Regions from separate parts of the Homo sapiens genome. Here region 2 is linked to region 1. The links come from fine-mapping of genetic effects on gene expression. Tissue or cell type: whole blood. Region 1 holds a variant in brackets; the other region holds the start of a gene. All regions are shown on one strand. Distances are from middle to middle.

The links. PIP is the estimated chance that this variant, and not a neighbour inherited with it, causes the effect.
Region 2: KCNMB4 starts here. The variant in region 1 is fine-mapped to the expression of KCNMB4 in whole blood (TOPMed, PIP above 0.99). The same link has a PIP of 0.9 or more in blood mononuclear cells.

The regions. Positions count from the first base shown.
Region 1 is chr12:70,407,882-70,410,638 of GRCh38, reverse strand. All of the region lies in intron 2 of KCNMB4 (potassium calcium-activated channel subfamily M regulatory beta subunit 4), which reads right to left. Among named protein-coding and RNA genes, the nearest start is that of KCNMB4, 43 kb to the right of the region's middle. The variant T/G (reference allele first, on the strand shown) is at 1,165.
Region 2 is chr12:70,364,765-70,367,521 of GRCh38, reverse strand. It overlaps KCNMB4 (potassium calcium-activated channel subfamily M regulatory beta subunit 4), which reads right to left and starts at 1,232. Exons shown (of 3, transcript NM_014505.6): 1 at 452-1,232. The coding sequence starts at 787. RefSeq lists a silencer at 1,177-1,416.

The DNA of each region.
Region 1 (2,757 bases):
TGCAAATGTGTTTCTTACAAAACCAAAACAGAAGCTCTTAAGATGGGTAATGCTATCCTCATTTTACAGGCGAGGAAACCAAGATGGAGAAGCTGCACAATTTATCCAAGGTCGTACAATTAATCAGTGATAGAGGAGAAATGTAAATCCCGATGCTTGATGTCACATGACTGCTGCCCTTAAGGAATTCATAATCTATAACAACAAAAAAGTACATATTCAACTCTCTTAACAGTGTGATAAAAGCAACCATGGCAGTGTGGGACTGCAGAAGAGGAAGTAATGAATTATACCTGAAAAGGTGGGAGAAGGTTACACAGTAACATTTGAGGTGAATCTTAATAATAGTAATAAAAACAATAATAGCAAACACTTTTGTAGGAATTATTGTGGGTTAGGCACATGCCATCTCCTTGATATTATATCCCACTTCTGCAAAGGAAACTGAGGCACAGATAGATTTAAGTAACATATCTAAGACCACGCCACTAGAAAGCGTTTGGTTCTAGAGTTCATTCTAGGACTACTGTGCTGTGCTAATTCCCAGAAGTAAAAAAGGTGAAGGTGTCCCCAGGTGAGGAGAAAGAGACAGGAGCAAAGGCATCAAGGTGTATGGGAAACAGAATGACTCGAGGTGACTGATGCAGCTGGAATAAAAGTTAAAATATGTAAAGCAGACCATATTACCACTCTGCTTAAAACCAACGACTGGCTGCTCACTACATTTTAAGAGAAATCTAAGCCCTGTATAGTTCTTGCTCCACTCTCCCACTCATTCACAGTTCTCCTGACACACTGGCCTTCCAGTACCTAAAACCACCAAGCTCTTTTTTGCTGCAGAACATTGGCACATGGTAGTATCTCATTCTGAAATATTCTCCCCCTAGCTTTTTACCTAGCTAATTCTTGAACATCCTCTGGTCTTGACCTAATTTTAATTTACACAGAAAGGTCTTTGAAATTCCCCATCATGCCGTAATATCTCATAGCAGCATCCTCAGCTTCCCCTTCATAGCACTACCCTACTTTGTAATTATACTACTGTTGTGACTACAGACTATAGGCTCCATGAAGGCAAGGACCGTGTCTGCTATTTTGTTGTTGTTTTCTTGTTGTTTTGTCTTTGGTTTTCCTTGACTGGCACATAATTCAATGGCAGAAGTT[T/G]AAGTTGGAATTGGAAGAGCATGGCCTTTATCCTATAGATAAGAAGAAGGCAGAAAAATTTAATCAAGGACTGTGACAAGATCAAAAGGAGGCTTAAACAAAGCAAAACAAAACCTAGCGTGGTGTGGATGACAGACAAGAGAAAGACCAAGGCTGACAGACTAGTTGAGGATGCCTTCAACAAGCCAGGTGAGAGCCTGAATCCAGGCAGTGGTGGAGGAAGTGAATTCAAGAGACTGCACAGGTGGTGTGGCTGGATTTGTTCATTTGACGTGTGTGTTTGTGTAAGCCTGCTCCGTGTACTCTGTGACCTACTATCCAGAGGTATAAAACAAAGTACTAAAAAGTAAACCTGTATAGAAAAACTCTATGCTCTCCAACAAGAGGAAAAGATAAAAAGACTGATCACTCCTTTTGGCCTTTAGATCCAAAGGGAATTGAAGAATGAATAGTTATTTTCAAAGGGACAAGCCCTCTTCAAGGAGAAGCCAGTTAAGGCAAAGATGAAGAAAGGAAATTGTATGAAAAGATTGAGAATACAGAGAAGTTTTCTGGCAATGAAAAGGGGGTTTCAAAGTATACTCGTTAAGGGGGTATAAGTTAGGTTTTGCTGAGAAGGAATAAGCCAGGGAAAGACTGAGAAAAAAAATGAAAACATGATATAGGGAGAATTGTGAACTTACCTGAATAAAAAAGTGTAAAAACAAAATCTACACATTTTGGAAGGAGACTGAGCCTCGAGGTTAAGGGAGGCAAAGAGTGGAAAGGTTATATGGGAGGGCCACAAATGGACTCAACCCTTGGCATGAATTCACCCCAGTGACGCCTCTGCAGAATCCTTCCTGGGTGTAGAGAGGGATGGCCGCACCGAGACTGACTGCCCACGGCAGGCACAGCTGCTTCGGGGCTGCTTCGGCCGCTGCAGACTCAACACTGGAATACAGCTTGCCTCAACAGGACTTAACCAGTGGAAAGCTAAGACTCCTCTAATCTTTGTCTTAGATTTTTAAAATAACACCCTTTTCTTGAAAGTCAAAACTGGACTATTCTCCCTAATTTCCTGCATTTGAGCGAAATCGAAAGGTTTCTTTAAATATAAAGTTCATCTTTTCAAGAGCATCTGGGAGTCCCTACAGTAAGTCTATTTTAATTTCATATTTAGCAGTAGTAAAAAGTGTACTAAGAGTAGATGGCACCAGGGAGCTGCCATTTTTCACACCTCCAAACAGCACTCCTGTTTCCTCTCACATATGTCATGGTAAAAGAGCCAAACTCCGAACGCCTGCCTTCCCAGAGTCGCTGAAAAATCCTGTCTTGAGTGCTGCTGGGCTGTGATAGACCACCCCCGCTTCTATCTACACCCCCACCGTTTGGGAATGGGACAGTGAGATGATGGATAGGGAATGTGTATCCGTTCTGAAGGAGGTATAATGAGCTTAAATTTACTGTACTGAAGTTAACACAACTGCTATAGGTGACATAATAAGAAATTTGTATTTGGTCTCTGCCCCGGTTCCTGGCACAGAACTTGTAAAACCCTTGTAATTTCCTGAGTAGTCGGGGTGAGAGGAGAATCTTCGTTTTTTCATAGTA
Region 2 (2,757 bases), 43 kb after region 1:
GACCTTTCAAGGAAGGTCATTCCATCTGAGTTCTAGATGAGACCAGCTGAAGCTCGGACCTTGACCGTGAGCTGGAGTAGGTGGATCCCCGCTAACCACTGGCTTTAAATGGAGGAAAAGTTAACTTTCTTGGCTCCTTGCACTTCTCCAAACCCAGTCCGGTAGGCGCAGGACCCGGACTGGGTCGAGGCCTCAAAATCTGAGACCAGGCAAGACAGGTTTTAAAGTAAGCCTCTGGGCACCACTGGTCGCCGCGCGTAAACCCACCTGAAAAGACCGGAGCCCTGGGGCTCCCTGATGTAGTCATTCCTGGTTTGAGCACAGCCTGCGCCACCTGGTCTCCTCCTAGCAATGCGAGCACACGCCGAACCCTCCCCGCGCGGAGTCTAACACCGACGCTGCCTCCAAACCTCCCTCGCGGGGAGCCCCTGGGTGCGCGGGGCGTTCTTACCTTGGGGTTGGTCAGGAGCTGGTGCTCGTCGCTGTGCAGCAGCGCCCTAGAGTTGGACTCAGAGTTGTTCACGTAGACCTGGACGCAGGGGTACTGCGAGGTGCCCCTGCAGTCGGCGCCACAGGTGAAGGTGCACTCGAACACCTCGCCGATCTGCTGCACCGACAGCACCGTGCAATTGGCCTCCGTGGCTTGCAGATCCTGCAGCGCGGGACTCAGCCAGCAGAAGCCGAAGATGAAGAGCGACACGACGCCGGAGATGATGAGAAACAAGCCGAGCCGGATGCTCTTGTCCTCGGCTTCCGTGTACTCGTAAGCCACCCGGAGCTTCGCCATCGCCCCCCACTCTCGGCGGCTGGCGTGCTCCCCCCGCCCCCTCCCGCCCCCGGCGCCGAGCCCGACTGCCTCGGGCGGGAGGAGCCGCCGCCGCCACCGCCGCCGCCGCGCGACAGCAGGGGAGTGGGCGGCGAGGGGGAGCGCGCGAGAACAAAGGGGCCGAGGCCAGCGACGCCCCCGGCGGCGGCGGCGGCAGCGCCCCCCAGCCCCCCAGCCGCCGCCTGGGCCCCGCGGTGCAGCAGCCGCTTCAGAGCCTCCTGCACCCTCGGGCGCGGGGAGCGCACGGACCGCTCCAGCTTCCAGCGCCCCCTGCCAGCCTCCGCCCCCGCACTCTCCCCGCCTCCCCCACCCCGCCTCCTCTCGTCGGGTGTCTCTCTGTCTCCATCGCCCGCTGGCCGCTACTCCGCTGACTCGCCCGGCAGCTGCCCCAAGGCTAGGAGTGTCTGAGCTGGGGCGAGCCCGGGGGCTCCCCCGTGCAGGAGGAGGCTCCGCCCCGCCCCGTCCGCAGCAGACCCGGGCCCTTCCGCCCCGCCCCGCTCCGCCCCGCCCCGCCCGGGGGCGTCTCCTTTGGGCGAGGGGCTGACGGGCACAAGCGACAGCGGCGACTTGCAATCGGAATCTTCGCTCACTCCCCTTAGAGGGACGTCCGAGATGAAAGATTAAGATCAATTTAGCTTAACCGGAGGGAAGTTAAAATAATAATAATAATAAGAGGGGAGGGTGGAGTTCAAGTGGAGCGGCGGGAATCTTGAACTCCAAACGAGTACTGGTCACCTGCAGGGAGAGCGGCCAGGCTCCGGGCGCACCCCGGGAAGCGGGCACGGGTGGCGGTGTGGGAGGACACGAGCCGCCCAGGCCGGGCGGATCGAGGTGAAAGCCCCAGGCTAGCGGTGTGCGCTGGGAGGTCCCCGGGGACGACTGAATCGCAGGTTCCCATGCCACGGGCGGGCTGGCGCGCGGTGGTGCCGGAGGCGTGACCCAGCCGCGCCCACGCCGCCAGCGGCTGCGCCCAAGGGAGCGCAGTAACCGTCCAGTCCCAGGACTTGGGCCTCCTAACCGTCTTGGCGCAGACCCGCGCCCCCTGACCCTGCTGAGGCCGGGAGGGCTGCAGGATTGGAGTTAAACAAGCTGAGTCAGGTGGAGTTTGCTGTGGAGGCAATGTGCGTGGGGGCAGGAGGCTGGACGAAGGAAACTTGCTGCTTAGGTCGTCGGTGACCCTTGTGGCAACTTAGGTCTCTGGCAGCCGAGTTGACCCCAACTTGATTTGCCCCCATGGCTGGGGCTGACTGAGACCAAAGGAAAAAGGTGGAGAGCTTTGCAGCCTGGAAAGAAATACCACTTTACCCATCAGAAAAGTACTCTTGCTTTGGGGCTCGCAAGAACAGAATCATTTCTGTCGTTTCCCTCCTTAGGAGTCTTGCCACCCCTGACCCGCCCCAGGATTTGTAGATGAGGTTTCCAGGAGCGCTGCTTAAAGCGACAGCGCCGGGCAGACCCACTTTGGGACAGGTACTGTTTCTAGACCTGTGTTCTGCTCTTAATTCTTGCCGTTGCTCCCTCCTCCCCCAATTACGCTAACAATGCTTCAGCCTCTATTGTTTTCGCGACCTTTTTAAAGTTAGAATGACCTTTTCCCAAACTACACTTTTATCATAAAATCAAACTTGAGAACTATTTATATGTACATTTCGAAGAATAAAATCAGAATATTAACTTCCTTGCAAACTACATAAACTTTTTTTGTTTGCTTGTAAGTCTCAAATGAATAAACTCTTAATTATGTTCCTGATGAATACGGAAACATGGAATCATGGAATTCTTGACTTCTCTTTCCTGGACTTCAAATGTTACTTAACTGGTATTGAGTACCTTTCGACTGCAGTTCTGATAACGTTATTTTGAAGCACTACATTATGACAGGTAACAAGTATTTCCCAGCAATGGGCAAATTAATTACAGGAAGATCCTAA